Linked DNA regions of Homo sapiens. The protein of the gene in region 2 purifies or fractionates together with the protein of the main gene of each other region. This does not show direct contact. Each region holds a gene or a part of one and is shown on either strand. Other genes may lie near its edges.

Region 1 (7,115 bases), on a different chromosome or scaffold from region 2:
GTATCTTAAAAAGTTATACATATACTTACAATATGAAACAGAAATCTCACTCCTGAGAATCTAAGCAGTAGAAATGGAAACATTTTTCCACAAAAAGACTTGTACACAAATGTGCAGAGCAGCATTATTCATAAGAGCCAAAACAGTGGAAATAACTGAAATGCTCCTCAACTTGTGAGTGAACACCCAAAATGTGCGATATCCATGCAATGGGATATTATTTGTCAACAAAAAGGAATGAAATACTGTTACATGTTACAATGTGAATGAATCTCAAAAACAATAAGCTAAGTGACTGAAGGCAGACCCAAAAGGCCACATTTGTATAACTATTTATATGCAGCATCAAGAAAAAGCCACTCTATTTAGACAGAAAATATATTACAGGTTTCCTGGGGCTGTGGATAAGAACAAAGATCAACTGAAACTGAACAAAGAGCTAATTTTGGAATGATGGAAATTTTCTAAAATATTATGGTGATGATTGTACAACTCTTTAAATTTATTAAAACATGCTGAATTGTACACTTGAAATGGATGTTTCCTATGGTATATAAAATATAACTCAAATTATCCTGTAATGACCTCTTACTGCACCCAGAATTAAATCTAAACCTACAACTCCCACTAAACATAACTTCTAAGCATGCTCATGTTTTCCCAGAAAAATAAATGACTTGTCAAAAGGCTTACGTAGAGGGAATGGATTTTTTTAAAGTTTGCTGATTAAGGCAGCCAGGAGAAATGAGAAGGAGCTTAATGGCTTAATAATAAATAAATAAATAAATAATTTGTTGCATTTGAGGTAGATTGCCTTTACTATGGTCTTCAGGATTTGCATCTAATTCCCAGCCTTCCATTCTCTGTCCAGCAATTGAGAAGTTTGAGCTAAGATTAAATCTAAATAAAAGGCCCTTCCTCTCTCTAATCTACAAAGAGTGTCATGCCAGTCACTGCTTAGATGTACTCACAATACCAAATTCCCTCTTTACAAACTTCCATCAATCAAGCAGACTTAAAAATTGTATTAAGCAAGCACCATTTATCCAGAAGTGCGCTGGTTCTTGTGGATGAATGATAAGATCCCTTCCTTCAAATAAAATAACTGATTGAGATCCAATATAGAAAATGGAACAAATCATAACTGTTATGGTTAAAGTGGAAGTGGGACCCCCAGAGTCATTAATCTGTCCTCAAATTCAACCACCACCTGACTCTATCACAGTGGCCCTTTAAAACCCTCCTTAGAATTCCCTGGGCTCGTCAGAACATTATTTCAAAGTCACCCATGAAATCTATCCTCTTTATTTCAGAGGTGAATAAATAAAGGTCCAGGATGGGAAAGGGACTAGCACAAGGCACATAGTCATGGTCCTCTGGGTCCTCTAAAAAGTACAGATTTATGCATGAAGCAACTTGAAATCAGAGTAATTATATACACGAGGGCTTTCTAGACAGTGGCACTATGCCATATTTCTCTCTTTAACCTCCACAACACCTATCATTCTGCTTTGGCCATAAGCGGGGCTCAATCATTACATTTGGAATGAGAAACTACTGAATGGTAGGTAGTAAATCCAGGGGAGTGATTATAGCATCAGTAGCCTCAGAGAAGAAAAGACATTACCATGGGTGGCAAGGATTTCATTCATTTGGTTCATATTTATTAAGAATCTATCTAAGTGACAGGAACTGAAAGCAACCGTCTGTTAAGAAAGGCTTTATTTAATAACAATAGCTATTATATTTGTGGTGCCTACTATGTTCCAGCAACTGTATTAGGCACTTTTTATGCTATCAAAATTTAATCTTCATAAGAACCATATCGGCAGGTATGTTTCACTTTATTTTCACACATGAAGAATTTGAGGCTGAGAGAAGTAAAGTGACTTGCCCAAGAAGACAAATTCAGGAAGTGGAAAATCCAGCGTTGTAAATCTGATCACCTTTCCATCACAACAAGGAACTTTCATCATATGATGGATTTAAAGCCATAAAAACCAGGCCAGTAGGGTGAATTCTTGTCCTGGCTCAGTCATCAATTTTCAGGGTGAAATAGTGCACTTCATGGAATCTCTTGGCACCTTGGAAATTCTACCTGGAAAGTAGGACTCAGTGTAGCCTTGCATGGAATTGTTGGATGCTTCAATGAGATGAAATCTGTGGAATGTTTGGCCCTACAAGTGAGGAAGCCATCCAGATCATTAAAGATGCAATTTTATATATAAAATTTCCTAATGAGATTTTTCCAAGAGGCTAAAGCACAGCTAGTATGACTCGTGAACCACAGGGAAACCACAGGGTTTTCAGGGTACTTTAGGGTTTCTACAGTCACCAGGATGACAGTCTTAGGTAACTTTTGGACCAGTATTCCTGAGCTCCTGTCCTAGTCTGTTTGTGCTTCTATAACACAATACCACAGACTGGGTAATTTGTAAAGAACAAAAATTTATTTCTCCCAGGTCCGAAGGCTAGGAAGTTTAAGATCAATGTGCCAACAGATTTGGTGTCTGGTGAGGGGCTTGGTCTCTCCTTCCAAGATGGCACCTTGTTGCTGCATTTTCAAGAGGGAGTGAATGTTGTGTCTTCATATGGTGGAATCACAGAAGTACAAAAAAGGGTCTAAACTCATTCCAAGTCATTTTCTAAGGCACTAATCCATTCATAATGGCAGAGGCTTCATGACTTAATTACTTCCCGAAAGGTCTCTCCTCTTAATACCATCAAAATGGTAGGATTATGTTTCAACACATGAAATTTGGGGTACATTCAAATCATAGCAGACTGCTAGGCCACAGGTTCTCCAGACAGTCTCCTGAGCCAAGACTATAAAACATTCAGCTGGATACCTTCTTTTCAATGATTTCTTTCTGGCAAATATGGAAGAGGACAGGTGCAAAGAAGGAGAAGTTCTAGGGCCATGGATCATCCATTGCTGGGACAAACTTGGCAGGCTCATCTGTCACCCAGTTTCAGAGGTGACTCAGCCCCAATGCACACTCAAAAAGCAGGGTAGGACAGCTGGGACCTGTAGGCCTTGAAGATGGGAAAATTAGGTGAAAAGATACTGTTTACTGGAGATTGATGGAAAAGTGCTGGTATTTGTTAATAAGTTGAGGGGATGATGAGAAGTGGACAATTCCAGATTATATTGTATAGGTATAACTGGCCAGGTCTTACTAATGCAGTTGTTCTCCACATGTAGTCCCTGCACCACCAGCAGCAGCATTGCCTGGGAACTTGTTAGAAATGTAAATTCTCAGGCCCCACTCCATATCTACTGAATCAGAGACCCTGGAAATGGGGCTCAGCAATCAATGATTTAAAAGCCCTTTAGGTGTAACCTCCTGCATGGTCAAGTATAATAACCACTATGCTAATGGTGTGGATGGAGAGGGTCACATAAAAAGAGGAATAAAGAATGGCTTCCAGATTTCAGCATAGTGAGGCATTTACTGAGATGGGGAAGACTGGGAAATAAAAATGTTTAGGGGTGGGGCTGGAGTTGAGGGCCTGTTTGAGATGCCAGTGATACATGCAAGGGTGTAAGTTAAATGGGCAGTTAGATATGTGAGTCTGGAACTCAAGGGAGAGATCAGAGCTATTGACTTTGATTAGAAGATCCTTCTGATGGGTCTTATTTATCCTAAGTGATGGGCCACCAAAGGATAGCCCAGCCCTGATTATGGCCCAGATTTATGCTCAGTAAATGTCACTGAATGAACACAAAGGAGCTAGTTTTTCCTGCTTACTCCAGTCTGGTGAGAATATTGCCTAAGTACTAAGCATTCTTCCATGTAATATTTATTTGCTCAACTGGAAACAAAGCTACTGTCAGCAAAGTAGATTTCTTATAACAGTTCATTCTGATAACTTTCTTACATCTCAATACCAAATGCCAACACCTTTTCAGTCTCTCCTGTGGCCAGCATTGTTTGGCTTAATTTGCCCATCCACAAGTCCCAGAGGTTCCAGTTGTCCTGTGCCTTGGTCTTGAGTAAGCACTGGTTCTGAGTCAATCCCCAAGCCAGGTAACAGAGGAGCTTACCAAGACTGCCACACCAATGGCGGAAGGAAAGGAAGAAGGGAGGAAGAGAGGAAGAGAGGAAGGGAGGGAGGGAGGGAGGGGGGAAGGAAGGAAGGAAGGGAGGAAGGAAGGGAGGATATCAATTCAAAATTCCATCATTAGATGGGATAACTTGAGTGCTATAATAAATCTCCCTGTGGAGTCTGTGGTTGGGGTATTGTAATTCATTTTGACTGGGGAACTCGAGAAGGTTTTGGAGAAGACGAGGCATTTCATATGGGTCTTCCTTGAAAAATGAGTAGGATTTAGATGCTTGGAATGGGAGAGTGGCATTCTAGAACGAGGAATCTGCAGAGGCAAAGGTCTGGTGGAACGGAAATATATAAAACAGTAAGAACTTCTATATGGCTAAAGGATAGGATTAATAAAAAGCAGTAGCAGATAAGGTCAGAATAGTGGGTATGGGACAGATTTCCGGGGAGGCAGCATGAATGCCATGGAAACACCGATAGGTAAATGTGTGTTCAACAGAGACACAGTAAGAAATGACGTAAGTGAGAAATGAATTTCACCTCATGACACAATACACACATACACATATTTAAAACTAAACAAAACCTTCTCCAAAGTATACCTACTACTTCATATGCAATGTATGTTGATAATTTCCTTTTTATTTTAAAAAAGGTTTTTTAAAAATGCTACTAGTGACCAACTAAATTCTTTTTATGAGCTAATAATGGGACGCAGCCTGTATTTTTCAAAAAGATTGTCATACACAATGAAAAGTTAGTGAAGATGTTTGAGAAATAAAATAACAACCATGCTTTAGGAAGGTAGTTCTCAAGGCAATGTGGATGCCATTGCAGACAGAGGAGAGACTGTAGACAGGGAAGTAATTCTTCAGATGGAAATGGATACTGCATTACAAATATCCATGCCAATTCATAATGAAGGCCTGAAATGGAGCAGTGAACTGGGAGGTGGAGAGTGGGGCAGGTATTGGGTAAGATATTCAGGATAGAAATAGAATTAACTAAGTGATTGCAGGTGAGTCATTAAAGAGAAAGGGGAGTCAACATTGACTTTCAGATTGCCATCTGAGGTAACTGTGCAGAGAATGGTGGTATTAAACCAAAGGTTTAAGGGGAGGAGCTTGATTGCTGTAGGAAGAGACGTAGATATAAAGCTGAGATTTATCTGTGAAACTTCCAGGCGGACAAGCCCAGTAGGCTGTCATATGTATGGGCTAAAGCATGAATGTGGGTGGGGTATAGAGGTTGGAGATTTGGAGGATAATATTTGAAGCCATGGAAGTACAGGAATTTACTCAAAAGAGTGTGTAGAAAGAAAAAAAGAAAAGAAGGACCCAGTCGAGAAACATTCATTTAAGAGTACCTACTTAACTCAACATCTCCTTCCAAAATGGTTTTTCTTTTTTTCAAGTGAGGAAAGCTCTTTGTGTATGGATATGTGTACATCGGGGTGTGAGTGTACGCAATACACATGAATGGATGGCATGTGCATTTTAAGGAAATATTGTTTTGTACTTGGGGAGCTGGTGTAGGGCTCTGGTCCATTTAATGGTGCCTGTACTCACTGTCTCTGTTTTATTACTGCTATCCTCCCTTTCCCTCTTTTCTATCTCCCTTCTTTTGTTCCATTCTTGTCTCTCTTCTTCCACTTATCTACATGCTCCTTCATCACCATTTAAAAGTCCAAGGAAAACATGGGCAAAATAGATTAGTGTAGGATTTGGAGGCTGAGGTTGGGAACATAATGTGGGAGTGTGATTGGGATTGGGAGGAAAGACAGGGGTAGGCGTGTGTTCAGAGTTAGAAGCAGAAAATGGTCTGTGGTGGGAGAATCTGCTTCTGATGTTTTTCCCACTGCAAATTCTGCCATTGGTGTGAGTGCTGAGTATGAATGCATATATTTCTGGGCTCGTGTCTTGATGTGTGTAAGGCTCTTAGCTTGACTTCAATAGGTCATTAGATGATGCTGCTGTCATCATTCCTGCTTCTGTCCAGCAAACATTATTTCTTTAACAGAAATATGCTGCTATGCTTATACTTCAGGAGATTTAGGATTATAGCAGTTGAAGAACTGTGAATAATGGTTAATCAGATAATCAGCATTTGTAAGGGCAGTTAATAACATTGAAATGTGCATGCCATGTGAATAGGAGGATATATTATTTTTTCTTTCCTAGCTGTGTAACCATGGGAAAGTTGCCTAATCTGTCTGATCCTCAATGTCCTTATCCGTAAAGTGGGGGTAATAATTCCTATCCCAGATTTCCTTTGGGAAGACTAAAGAGTAAATGAGCCAGGAGCTTTTAAATTAAAAGGTGCTTGACAAATGTTAGTTCCTTTCTTCAGTTTCTTTGACCCTTTGCTCCTTCCTTATTTCTATCTCTCATACATGTTTATCTGTCCATATGTGAACATCAAGTATATATTTATAGTACTTTCTCCATTTTAAATTCTTAAACCAAGTGGCTTAACCTTTGTATATTACTGTAAAATTGTCAAAAGCAGTTTAATTTAAGTCACTTTTGGAACACACACATTTGGAATTGTTATGTCTTCTTGGTAGATTGACTATTTTTCATTATGTAATATCCATCTCTAGGAATTTTCTTTGCTCTGAAGTCTGTTTTATTTGATATTAAGATGGCCATTCCTGCTTTATTTTGATTAATGTTTGCAAGGTATTTAGACTATTTGTTGTGAACATAATTATTGATACATGAAGGCTAAGTCTGCCTTTTTATTTTTTTTTCTGTTCATTCTCCGTAATTTTAGTTTCTCCATTTTCTTTGCCCTGCCTGCCTGTGGGTGACTGGAGCATTTTTTAAAAATTCATATTGATTTATTTATAATGTTTTGAGTACATTTCTTTGTATAGCATTTTCAGTGTTTTCTCTCAGTAATATATTATGTATACATAATTTATTTAATAGTCTTCTGACATTACCACTTTACATGCTTGAATGAAGTGTAGAAGCATGTCCTCCCCTTTACATCTCTTTACATTTACAATCCCCTTTACATTCCCCAGTTTACAATATAAATGTGTTAAATAT
Region 2 (6,580 bases):
CATAGTCTGGCTGTGCTAGTGCCAGGGCATGGGTGATGGGTCCCACCTGGAAAGAAGGCTAGACTTGGAGTTGGGAACCAGGTACCAAGTGCCTTACGGCCCCTGCAGGTATGTCCTGAGCCCAACCAGGATTGTTTGGAAGATTTTAAGCCGAGGGTGAGAGGTAGGATGGATTCAGATTTGGGGACCTGAGTGGGGAACCTGATCAGATTTGCTTTTTGGAAAGTGACTGTGACAGATACGTGAGCCATGGGCAAGTCTTCAACCTGAGCCTCAGTTTCCTCATTTCTCAAGCAGGAACAATAGATGTGCGTGAAGACTGGAAGCGATAATGTATGTGAAAAGTGGTATATGTCAACTATTATTACATGACTTTGAGTCACGAATGAGCTAACATGCTTACGTTCTCAAGAAGAGATCAGTTTCGTCATCTGCTTGGTATTGTTTCTTGATTTATACAGCTGTTTCCTCAAGCATTTTTCTTTAAATGGGAGCAGCTATTACTATTTTTTGTCTGTTTCAGCTTCAACTCTGTTACAAATTGGAAGGAACGAGTTGTTGAACATTGATCGTAGAAAAGGAAAAGAAAGTTTTTATTTTTTGCCTTGTTGTGCATTCATTCTTTCAAAAGCTGTTTAGAGGAAAAAACATTTTCTATCTTCTCATAGTAGTAAGTAGCAACTCAGGTGCCTGAAGACCCCATCATATTTTACTAAAACTCTCCACTCCAAAAGAGCATCAGTTGTGTGTAGGTGAATAGAAAGCTGGTGTGTAGGCCGGGCACGGTGGCTCACACCTGTAATCCCAGCACTTTGGGAGGCCAAGGCGGGTGGATCACCTGAGGTCAGGAGTTTGAGACCAGCCTGGCCAAAATGGCGAAACCGTGTCTCTACTAAAAACACAAAAATTAGCCTGGCATGGTGGCACGCACCTGTAGTCCCTAAGCTACTGCAGAGGCTGAGGCGGGAGAGTCGCTTGAACCTGGGAGGCAGAGATTGCAGTGAGCCGAGATCGCGCCACCGCACTCCAGCCTGGGTGACAGAGCGAGACTCTGTCTTAAAAACAAAAACAAACAAAAAAGAAACCTGGTATGTAAGTAGCTAAATATAGAGACGTATAGGAGGCATCTTGTAATGTGTGATTATTCATTTGATTTTATTCAGTGTGCTATTAAGAAGGGCCCTTCCTTCTAAAGAAAATTAGAACATTTTCAAAGCTTGCGTCTGAATCCTGTCTCACTACTCAGTAATGGAGTGACCCAGGAAACCGCATCACCTCCCCAAGCCCCAGTCCCTGTGAAATGGGGAGTGTAGTAAGACCTGCTTCCTAGGGCTGTTGGGAGGATCAGGTGAGACAATCTGATTGAAGGACTTGGACCAGTGCCTGATAAATAATAAGCACTTGGTAAGTTATTATTAGGGCTGGGAGAGCAATAACTTCAGCTGCGAAAGCTAATACTAGTCTATCCTGATGACGGCATCAGATACTTATTTTCAAGTTTCTTCTGAAGACAAATTTTAATTGACACTTGAAAACCAGGAAGAGCATGAAAAAGAGGACTCAGTGTAGCCTCTAAAGGCTGTTGAGCCTGAAGAGGTGTTGGAATGCCGTGCCCGCCTTGTGGTGCAGGCTTCAGCAGTTTAGGCCCAGAGGACTGTGGGTCCCACCTGCCTGACAGCAGGGCACACAGGTGCTGAGCAGTTGGCCATTACTGGGCTGTGAAAACAGCATGAATGGGGAATGGAGACTGTGGGCAAAGCAGTACAGTCCACTTGTTCGCAGGTGGGAAAGTCAAACTCTGTCTTTATTCTTTTTTTTTTTTCTTTTTGAGATGAGTCTCGCTCTGTCGCCCAGGCTGGAGTGCAGTGGCGCGATCTCGGCTCACTGCAAGCTCCGCTTCCTGGGTTCACGCCATTCTCCTGCCTCAGCCTCCCGAGTAGCTGGGACTACAGGCGCCCGCCACCGCGCCCGGCTAATTTTTTTTTTGTATTTTTAGTAGAGACGGGGTTTCACCGTGTTAGCCAGGATGGTCTCGATCTCCTGACCTTGTGATCCGTCCGCCTCGGCCTCCCAAAGTGCTGGGATTACAGGCGTGAGCCACCGCGCCCGGCTGTCTTTATTCTTTTACCATTTTATTTGGGATAAGTAGCAGCACTGCCTGGGAAGACCCTTGGGAGGGAGAAGGAATCTGTTGGATGGAAATCTTACCTTTGAGCATCAGTTATATTTAATGCCTAGTTTCAGCCCTTTTCATATTAGACTTTCCAACAGCAAGTCAAGGAAAGTCAAGGAGCGAAAGGAAGATGGGCTCAGAGGAAAGGTTTTTTTTTTTTTTTTTTTTTTGAGATGGAGTCTTGCTCTGTCACCGAGGCTGGAGTGCAGTGGTGCGATCTTGGCTCACTGCAATCTCTGCCTCCTGGGCTCAAGCGATTCTCCTGCCTCAGCCTCCTGAGTAGCTGGGATTACAGGCATGTGCCACTACACCCGGCTAATTTTCTTATTTTTAGTAGAGATGGGGTTTTGCCACGTTGGCCAGGCTGGTCTCGAACTCCTGACCTCAAGTCATCTGCCTGCCTCGGCCTCCCAAAGTGCTGGGATTACAGGCATGAGCCACTGCGCCCGGCTGGAAAGGTTCTTTTAAGAGTTCCACAAAGTGGCCAAAAGTTTATTCTTGCATTTTATCATGCGTATGCCTTGGAGTTATGTTTTTGGAATATGACTTAAGAAAACAAACTTTCCAGGTAACACGTAGCCGGTTCCCATCTTTCTAGCATCTCTGCCTTTGGCTGATGTGACGCCATACGTTCCTGACAGTTAATGTTGGCTCTGTAGGGATCTGATGCCAAGTACAGTCATAGCTCAGCCATGACACAGGGCCTTCCAGATAGGCCAGATTCAGTGCCCTTCCCAACAGATGCCTCTCCATCCCCCACACCTCCCGACTCCACCAAAATGAAGTGGAAGCACGTCTTGAGTTGCCCATTTCTTCTGTGTCTGGTCAGGCACACGTCAAGAATGTTGGCTGGTGATGGGCTCAAGGCAGGCACAGCCCGCTTCACTGTGCATGTGTGCAGGCTTGATTGACACTGGCAAAATCTGCAAGGATATTTCTAGACATTCCAAGTGATTGGTTCCTCTGAGGAAATGAAACATTAAAAAAAAAAAAAAAAAAAAATATATATATATATATATATATACACATGTATATTTAATTATTTTTTTAAAGCCACAATTGAAAAAATTCTTTGCCACTGGGTAGAATTAAATCTGACAGGAAACCCTAGGAGTTTTTATTAGTACCATTATTGTTTTCTTTGGCTCCATGTATTATGTCGGTAAAATGACAAAAAAAAAAAAAGGAAAAAAATTGTAAAAGACAAATATTTTGTACAAAAATACAAAGTTTTAAAAGCTCTTTAAGTATATTTCATATTATTACTAATAGTTGGCCTATATATCTGTATGTCTGCATATTTTTCCTACACTTGGGATTTTAGAAATGTATGGCACTGTTTACACAGTATATGCTTAAGTTCTTCCCATAACTCAACGACCAATGATAACCTTTTTCTGATTGGAGTGTTCCATACTTTGGAAGACATAATTTGTATAATCGCACGGTTACTGACGGAGGAGAATCTATGTGATTCAGTCCATGTGCACAATGAAAATCAGCATATCACCCTGGGGAACATTTTAGTTCCCAAGTCTTTGGGTAATGACGGATGGTAAAAAACACTAGCTGTCAATTTTTTTTCAGTAATTGGTTTTCAGTGCTTTTTTTTTTTCAATCTGATGAGAAGGTGATGCAATTAGAAAGGAGTGTCCTTTGCCTTTGAGAGCTGAAAATTTGCTCATGTGATCCCATCACAGTCCGTTATAATGCAGATGACAGTACTAAAAGAGAGAAATAAGAATGGGCATTAGTTTTTCTTAAATAATAAAGTTAATGTGCAATTCAAAAAAAGGGAACGTGTATTTTTATAGGACAGTGTCTAAAATACATCATTCAACAATGCTTATATTTTCAAAGAAATGTCTAGAAGATCTTATTTGGATGAAAAGATAAGTTTCATTTTGAAAAGCCAAGTTTCATTTTGAAAAGCCTATTCTGGGAAAGCCTGGTCCCTACTCAAATCCCAAATGGCCAAACAAAGCATACAAAAGACAAATCTGAGTTACTTGTCACCATCAATTATAATCCCTTGTTTAGATATCTGTGTTTTTCCCCCTCAACTGACCCAGCTGTGAGTTCCTATGTGTCTTAAGGTCCCTAGCACTTGGACCAATGCCTGACACATCAAAGGTGCTCAGTAACTGTCTGTTGAATGGCAATACGGATAATTTATGCCCCAGTTACTTCCAAAAATAGTTTGACCAAAATATATTTGAGGTTTTTGTTTTTATATGAACAGCTTTATTGAAATATAATTGACAAATTGTATAATTCACCCATTTAAAGCATATAATTCAGTGGTCTTTGGTATAGTCACAAAGTTATGCAATTTAGAACCAATCTAATCTAATTTTAGAACATTTCCATCACCCCAAAAAGAAACCCCATACCCATTAGCATTCATTCCCCATTTCCTCTGTCCCCTATCACAAACTTTTAATCTCATTCTGGTGAAGAAAACTAAGATGCCACATTCCAAAGAGGGTCGTGTGTTAAATGAAGCTTTAGATACATAGCCTTTGAAGTCAAGAAAATCTCCAAAAGCTGCTTTGGCTTATGAGCTGATAAGCAGCACAGACCATCTCCCTCTATTATGTATCACAGGATCTGGCCTATAGTAGATGCTCAATAGATACACGTGGAATTGAACGCTTGGCCACCTGGATTAGCTGTGTATGGATGTCTACGGAAAAGAACTAACATTGGTGCTATATCTCTTTTCTTTTTTGAGATGGAGTTTCGCTGTTGTTTCCCAGGCTGGAGTGCAATGGTGCGATCTCGGCTCCCCACAACCTCTGCCTCCTGGGTTCAAGCTATTCTCCTGCCTCAGCCTCCTGAGTAGCTGGGATTACAGGCATGCGCCACCATGCCCGGCTAATTTTGTATTTTTAGTAGAGATGGGGTTTCTCCGTGTTGGCCAGACTGGTCTCAAACTCCCAACATCAGGTGATCTGCCCGCCTCCACCTCCCAAAGTGCTGGGATTACAGGCGTGAGCCACCGTGCCTGGCTGGTGCTATATTTTAAAGAACAATTAACTCACAATATAAGATACTTATGTGGGTCAGTTAGTTTAGCATTCGTTGAGTACTTCCTACATGTGAGGCACATTTATTAACTTATTTAAATCTTCACAACCTCGTGAAGAAGATGCTATTACTATTTCCCTGAGGTTAATCACCTGCCCAGTTAATAAATGGCATAACCAGGGCTGAAACCTAATTGCAGTGCCTGCATTCAGGGCCCTTGTACTCACCACCCCTCACCCTTTCATAGGACATAAGCTGGCAGCTCCCTCTTAAATCCCATCTACTGCTCACCTGTCTCCCTGTCTTTTTCGCAAATGAAGTTATTGACGTCTTCACATTGGAAATCGTTCCACTGCCCAGCATAAATCAACCCAGCACAGTCTTCTCCTGGCCCATGGCCATGACCCCAGTTATCCGGCTGTCCAGCTTTCCAATTTCTTTTAGCAAAACAGAAATTGAATGTTATTTGCACAGTAATGCAGAGCTTTTCTTTACTCAAGAGCAGCAGAGAATATAAAAAAACAAAATTGAAGCATGTCATTTATCCTGGAATGAAAATGCAGTTTAAAAATCAGTACATGCTCTTATTCAGAGAAAGGAGCAGCTGTTTTGCAGAGTAATGCATAATGCGGCATCTCCCTGCGCGCTTGTGATCTTTGCTACCATGAACCAAACTCACTAGGCTGGTTCATCAGAATGCAGAGGGAGCGAATCTTGCTTTGGGACAGTTAGATGAATAACTTTCTAATGTGTACTGGAATGCTGACTTCTGGGCATGAGTGTATATATGTGTGTGAATATCTATTCATTATGAGGACATGATACACACACACACACACACACACGCACACATGATCTTGTGAGAACCCAGAGGGACCTTGTACATTTCAATATCTTGCCTCTAACAAGTCCAAGAGCCAGGAAGAGAAAGTGAAAGACTTTTGATATACATTTACAAGAACCTACAATTACAAATAACTGGTTATGATTGTCTGGGTGAGTTGTAGAAGGTTGATTGCTTTAGAAAGAAATAGTAACTTAATCTTACTGAAAATGACTCCTACATTTCACTCCCTTTTTTGGGAGAGAGATTCTTAAAAACAAGTTTTCTTTAGGATGAGTTCACATGGGGCTTCTTAACTTGGATGCTGCTGCTCAGAACAGCACCTTGCCATGGATAACAGTTCTTGATTACGTTTCCACGAATAAATCAGGTGTGCTTCCAGACTCACCCCTTGAAGGTTCAATCTTGTCTAAGAAGCAGATTCATGCACAGAAGCTTGTGGCTGCTGCCTGAGAGGACAAGCCTGCCTCATGTGGAGGGTCTGGAAGAACATCTGCAGCGGAGGGTGCTTCCTATAAACAATGACTCATTAC
Region 3 (7,115 bases), on a different chromosome or scaffold from region 2:
AAATAAATAAACAAATAAATAAATATAAATAAATATACATCTTTGGCCAGGTGCAGTGGTTCACACTTGTAATTCCAGCACTTTGGGAGGCTGAGGAGACAGATTGCTTGAGCCCAGGAGTTTGAGACCAGCCTGGGCAACATAGTGAGACCCTGCCTTTCCAAAAAAAATTTATAGATTAGCCAGGTGTGGTGGCTTGCACCTGTAGTCCCAGCTACTCAGAAGGCTGAGGTGGGAGGATCACTTGAGCTGGGGAGGTCAAGGCTACAGTGAGCCTTGCACTCCAGCCTGGGTGACAGAGCGAGATTCCACCTCAAAATAAATAAATAAATAAACAAACATCTTCAATGAAGGTTACTCAACTCAAACTTAAAGGAGTGGACACAAAGACTAAGAAAATGAATAACTTTTTAAAAAGTTTTATTTCAAGAACTTTGTTTTTTACTGGTATTTCAAAAAAACGTGGGTCAAAGTACAAAAAAAAGTCAGTTGAATAACAGCACAGGTTTAGAAATCACAGCAGCAGAAGCAATGTACAGACAGCACAGAAAAAACAACCCAATGTATGCAATTCTGTTCAGTTTCTTTGCTTATTTTAAGTATTTTTTTGCCTCCTGTACAAAATACATAAAAGCATGCCATGAGATCAGAAAAAGAAAAGAGTTTAACAAATGGTTACAAGAAATAGACTCTGTACAAGAGGAGATAATGTTTCTTCCCCTACCCCCCACCCACTACCCCCGCTTCCTCTCTTCTTGCTCTGCTTTAGGTTAAATTATTCTGAAGACAGTTCACATCCAAGTCAGCCTGGTCACCTTTGCCACCCTCAAGTTTGGGCGACATGGAGTTCTGGATGTTAAATGACTCCTCCTCTTTCAGGCAGGACTTGAGAACCTCCTGGATTTTGTGGGGAGCACTAGGATCATCCTGGAAGAGGGAAAAAGTTGGGGGGGGGGAGACAATGCATACAGCAACCAAATAATAATATCAGCGTTTTCTATCTGGTTGAAGGAAGCATCACTGAAACAAGGAAAAAGCTCCAAGACTTGAATGAACTAAAAGGAACCAAAGTAACTCATTAGCAGCAACTTTTTAGGAAAGTCATCCTTACAAGAAATGGCCAGGCAGAGAGGAAAACTTGACAGTAATCAGTTTACAAATAACTTTAATTTGTGCCATGTCCAAGGTTTTCTCTTGGACAGAGATTGGGGAGAAAGAGTCCCTTGGCCCAGGCGCCTCTATAGCCTCATGTGTTGATGAGCTCTGCGGGGCCTGCTGAGCCCGGCCTTCCTCTGGCCTTCCATCCTGTTGAGTTTTGCTTTCACAAAGATGTCTTGGTCAGGGAACATGTCTCATCAGTGTATACAGTGGGGTATGCATAGAACTGGTAAAGTGCAGAACTGCTCCTGACTATGCTGGGGCCTCTCTCCCCACAGTAAGAGCATCTCCGCTGACTAGAGGTCAAAGATGTGTCAGCCTCTCATTGTCACAAGTGAACCTGCTAAAAGATGCTAGCTAAAAAGGTATGTCCTCAATCCAAGCCCGAATGACCCTGGCTGCCTCAATGGCTTGCCACACTCTGCATCACATGATATTCGTACTGCTGATTCTAATGTAATAATCCATGTATATTGCCTACAGCCCTGTGACAAGCTCCCTCTGACAAACTCCTGAACCTGAGCTGAATTTGCATTTTATGTATTTATGTATTTATTGATGTATTTATTTATTTATTCTTGAGAAGGAGTCTTGCTCTGTCGCCCAGGCCAGAGTACAGTAGTGTGATCTCGGCTCACTGCAATCTTGAACCTCTTGGGTTCAAGGGATTCTCGTGCCTCAGTCTCCCCAGAACCTGGGATTATAGGCGCTCGTGACCATGCCCGGCTAACTTGTATTTTCAGTAGAGATAGGGTTTCACCATGTTGGCCAGGCTGGTCTCGAACTCCTGGCCTCAAGGGATCCACCCACCTCGGCCTCCCAAAGTGCTGGGATTACAGGTGTGAGCCACCACGCCGGCTTGAATTTGCCTCTTAAAGGTTCTCAGGAAGCTCACACTAGCACATAGTCCTCCAGGTCTACATTCTGCACGTTCAGAGAACTTCTGTGGCAAATCTTGCTTTACTCATTTCCTTTAGGACCACCTAAGGGGAATATACCCAGTGCAATTCAGTGGGCCTCAGTTCTTTCTCTGGTGCCCCAAATAGCTGTTGTAAGTGCTTGGAACTCTGCTGATAGAAGACAGTGTGTAACCACTAAGGCAGATTCATGGATGACAAGAAGGTAGAGAGTGTCCTAATCTGACCAGCTAGCTAAGGCCATTCTTGCTTTAACCACTACCAAAATTCAAGATTACCATCATGCTTAAGGACCAGAGTGTTCTCCAGAGAAGTCTGGTGAGCCCTCGTCTGTGCTGCCTGCTACCAAGTTTGACCCATAACAGCACTAGGTTATGGGAGTGATGAGTTGGAAAGAAAGTAGGGAGAGACCCCGGGCTTTCCATGGTTCTTGTACACACAGGACACCGGGGCATCCATGAGTTCTGTGCATATGGAAATCACTGCCAGCTGCCCACTGCCCACAGCCTCACTCGGTGCTTCTCCAGAGGCCCAGATTAAGGAGGACAATTTAGTAGAGTTTCAAAGACTTCACACATGATTTATAGACAGGGGAACACATGTTTCTTGTTCCAATGAGACAAGAACAAGAAAATGAACTTCATAGAGTACTGAGGCAGATGTCAGGTAAGGCAGCTGCACACAGCACGCGCGGCCAGTTGAATGGTCAATCACTGCTTAGAATCACAAAACACTGTGCAGTGACATAAATGTCCATCTCCTGAGACGGAAAGATCTCCATCATACACTGATTGAAAAAAAGTAAGGGGTAGAACATGTATAGCAAACTCTCATTTATGTTTTAAAAATATAGATATAGGTGTGTGTTTGTGTGTGTATATATATATACACACGTGTGTACTTTACGGAGAGGGAGGTGGGGGTGAAGTAGAGCTGCACTTTTTTATTTCGTGTACTTCTGTACTGTTTGGGGGAAACCATGGTCATGAAAGCTGGAGAGCTGAGCTATAAGTATCTTAGGTAGGATGGACTTTGAATCACACTAAAATCTAGAACAGGACAAGAGGACCTATAATCACCTCTCCTCTTACAAGGATACAACTTGCTTTTATGTCTTTCAAGATAACCTCCCACCCTCAACTCCTTCATCACATATTCTCTGGGGGCATACAGGGGTACAGAAACATTCTCATGATGTGAAGAAAAGTGGACTAAGTGACTCCTCACAGACCCTGGTCTCAGAGCTCTGATGCCATGAAGGTGGGCTCCCAGATTAAACCTGAGCCCTCGAGGGCTCATGGGATCTAGATTAGAAAACTGTCTTCTGAGCCAAGGGATGGAAGAAGCATATCCCAAAAGCAAGAGATATGCAAACAGTGCTATTAGACAAGCTGAATACCTCCAACAAACACAAGAGGCAAAGGAATGTCTACACCAAGATGGGGCTCTCCTAACTCAGGTGTTTGCTCCAGAACTTGATCCTATTAAGCCAAGGGTAGCTGAATTCCACAGCAGGTCCAACTGCCTTTGACTTAATAGAAGTACCTCATCACAAGGGAGCTGGATCAACATCTGGCATAAGTTCCTAGGAACCACTGTGGACTCACTGCTCCCAGCATTCAATCCCAGCAGTATGGGCACCCTTCAACCCAGGGGTCATGTGGGTTCAGGCCTGGCCAGAGGCAAACATCTATTGGAAGAGGGTGGGCAGTCAGTGCTTTAACAAATACATGCAAGAGAAGAGTCTGGAGAGTAGGAAAGAGTTAAATAGGAAAAAAAAAAAAAAAGCACAGGAACATCAATGGAGAAATCCTAGGAATAAACTGAAATCCCGGAAGGTCTGTCAAATCTTAGCACAACCCAAGTTACCCCCATGGTCTCGACAGCACCGTTGTGAGGACCATCAGGGCAGCCCAGTGTTGGGGCAGCTGCCCTGGGTTTCTGGTGGCTTCATTCACGCAGTGTGCCTGGAGCACGGGCAGCTTCCTACATTCTCTGTGCCTCCTGACATACCCTTCAAGGCTGGTTGCTCAGCTACGCAAGACACTCACACAGACTCAGCCTAAGGCCCACCAGCTACAGAGCCGCACATCAGCCTGAGGGCAGAGAGGAGCAGAGGAGGGAAAGAGGTGCCACCGGCACAGATACCAGCCACTGACCCTTCCCTGTCACAGGCCCAAAGCCCCAGACTTTTTTGCTTGCAATCTTTTCAGAGTGTGGCTGGTAGAGGTGATTGCGACAGTGTAGGAAAATGACCTGCTCAATCTATTTTACGTATGTAAAAGAAATAACACCTCGATGCAAATAAATAAAACTCTCCAAAATTTTAGAGAAAACCAATACCAGCAAGGAGTTTGGGGGTGGGGAGAGAGGGGTGGGGAGAAGCCACGAGGCAGGCTGGACTCCGGCGCCCCCTTGTCTCTCCTCCCGTATCATCTGGAGGATCTCTCACTCTCCCCGGCTGCTGGCACCCCTTGCAGGCAGTGAGTGTGGCGGCTGTAGCAGTGAGCAGGGCTTCACTTCACAAACAAGTGGCAACCGTGTTCATCGGCAATGCCCACAAGATCTTGAATATGACTAAGTTTGACCTTTGGATGAGGTGGAGAGAATTAGAGATGAAGGTAGAAAATCCACCACTACATTCCTTGCTGGATAGGAGAGTCACCCCTCACATCCACAGTGCTTTCAGAGAGGAGAAGATGATGTCCCCTTGGGCACAAGCTGACGGAAAGACACCAGCCTCAATCTCCTTGAAGTCTGGGTATTTGGTTACAATAAAAAAAGGCACCAGCCTCAAGATCCAAGAGGAGCCAGGAGAGAACCAGAGCCAGATCTTGCTGCTTCCTAAGGGATGGCTTGAGTGCCGCCCTGGCCACCCCATCACCCTGTCTCAGGCAGAGCCCACTATGGCCGACCAGCCTCACCCGCCCTGTGGCTGACCCCCAAGCCCCATGCTAGATCACCACTGCCTGTGGCCAACCACACACCGTGGCCGACCACCACCCTCCCGTGGCTGACCACCCCCTGCTCTGCTGTTTTCAAGGCTTGCCATCTTCTGAACTAAGGGTCAGTGGCAGCGTTCAGGTACAAAAGCCTCACTTTCCACAAAGCTGGATCAGCCAAGAACAAGAAACCTTCGCACCGGCTGTGTAGCCAAGCCCTCCAAGAGGAGCTCTTTCTTTTCCCCCTCTGAGAAGAAGAAAGGTGTCTGAAGCTGTGGTATTAGAAACACAAGGGTCAGAAACTTTCCTAAGGATGCTTGCACTCTGTCAAGCAGAGTGGGAGGACTCTGTCCAACCGTGGACAGTGAACATGCTGACTACAGGAGCTCCCGTCCTGGCAGACCTGCTGCCATCTGCAGGATGGCAGATCAGCCAATGGAACTGAGAGCCCCCATAGCCCACCATCACTCACTAGTATTCAGCAAGTGGTAACTGTGTGCATGTTACTGCAGAGGGCGGGATAATGTGCTCACCGAGACTCTGTCCTGCCCTCTGTGGGTTGATGAACATGGTGACCAATTTTAGAGTTTATAAGACATAGTGTTTCCTTGGTTATAATGTTCATCTTGACCTTACTTGTTGTATCTTGGTACAAACCAAGTGAAATAATCTGTTCTTTTTCTACCCTTTATATCAAAGACTTTAAAAAATTATCCTAAGTTTACCTCTTTCATTTCATATTTAAATTCACCCATTTACTTCTCCTCTACCAGGCCAAAATTTCCTGTTCTGGGGTTTTGTGAATGAGGCCACACATTTACTCTTATTCTCTCTTCCCCCTTCTGGGGCTGCAATTTCCCCATCTATAAAAGGAAGAAGGCCAGGCATGGTAGCTCACACCTGTAATCCCAACACTTTGGGAGGCTGCGGCAGGAAGATCACTTGAGCCCAGGGGTTCGAGACCAGCCTGGGCAACATGGCAAAACCTCAACTTTACAAAAGTTAAAATAATTAGCCAGGTGTGGTGGCACATGCCTCTAGTCCTAGCAACTCAGGAGGCTGAGGCAGGGGTATCACTTGAGCCCAGGAGTCTAGGTCTGCACTGTGTAATGTGGTAGTTAAGAGCTCTACAGCCGCAAGTGGCTAGTGGCTGTTGTAGTAGACAGAGCAGATATAGAACACTTCCATTTCACAGAAAGTTCCACTGGACCGTATTGGTCTAGAGTGCTGAGGCCCCTGTGAGGTCTGACACTCTATGGTCCATGATTTCTAAGAACTTCTTCTAAATTTCCTCTTAAAGTCCATTGCTTCAGTCTGAAGTCTCAGTTTAACTTGCTTATCTGTGTAATAATCTGTGTAAAAATGCATTTATCTTGAAGTATGGAACCTGCATTATATAGAGAATTCTAGGATTTGGATGTGGCATGATTTGAGATTTGGATATGGTTTCTGCCTTGTTTTTGAAATTCTCTCTAGTATTTGACTGGTCAGTCTAATCCAGGCAATACACTAGGCCAGGGTCTTTAGAAAATGGTCTATTAGGATCTTTTATTGGATTTCAACTGATATTTATAAGCCCATACTCCTAAGAACAGGATTACTCCTGGACTTAAGGCTCTGCCAGTGTTTTGTATTTGGGCCTTGGCCTTAACCAGCTGTGTATAACCCTGCCAGTTCTTAGGATCCTCAAATAGCAGCAAGGACACAGAAGTCTTTCCACCCATCCCAAAGAGCAACCACCGTTTGCTTCACTGACCACCATGAAATTCCCCAGCAGTGAAAGCAGAGCCTTTCTCCTTGATATGGAAAATAAGACAATAATCAGACTTCTAAAGCTTAGATGAAGCTAAAAATCATGAGTAACCCTAGAAAAAGATCTTCTCAGCCAGGCAGGTGGCTCACACCTATAATCCTAGCACTTTAGGAGCCTGAGGCAGGAAGACCACTTGAGGCCAGGAGTTCGAGACCAGCCTGGGCAACACAGGAAGACCTCATCTCTACAAAAATTTTAAAAAGAAAAAGACCTTTTGTATCGAAAATTCTGCTTGTCAAATAAGTGATACACCATCAAGTGCTTATTCCCACCTTTGCTGCCCAA

Evidence for each region.
Region 1: the proteins of COLEC12 (region 2) and ZC4H2 purify together in Homo sapiens (affinity purification with mass spectrometry; 2 studies listed by BioGRID and IntAct, with this or other methods). This does not show direct contact.
Region 3: the proteins of COLEC12 (region 2) and CSPG5 purify together in Homo sapiens (co-immunoprecipitation; 3 studies listed by BioGRID and IntAct, with this or other methods). This does not show direct contact.

Annotation. Positions count from the first base shown.
Region 1 is NC_000023.11:64,966,391-64,973,505, forward strand, and holds part of ZC4H2 (zinc finger C4H2 domain-containing protein), read right to left. Parts: intron 1-7,115. UniProt on the Homo sapiens protein: Plays a role in interneurons differentiation. Involved in neuronal development and in neuromuscular junction formation.
Region 2 is NC_000018.10:316,168-322,747, forward strand, and holds the end of COLEC12 (collectin-12), read right to left. Parts: intron 5,641-6,580; coding exon 5,495-5,640; intron 3,898-5,494; coding exon 3,878-3,897; 3' UTR 570-3,877; downstream 1-569. UniProt on the Homo sapiens protein: Scavenger receptor that displays several functions associated with host defense. Promotes binding and phagocytosis of Gram-positive, Gram-negative bacteria and yeast.
Region 3 is NC_000003.12:47,561,835-47,568,949, forward strand, and holds the end of CSPG5 (chondroitin sulfate proteoglycan 5 isoform 1 precursor), read right to left. Parts: intron 928-7,115; coding exon 766-927; 3' UTR 404-765; downstream 1-403. UniProt on the Homo sapiens protein: May function as a growth and differentiation factor involved in neuritogenesis. May induce ERBB3 activation.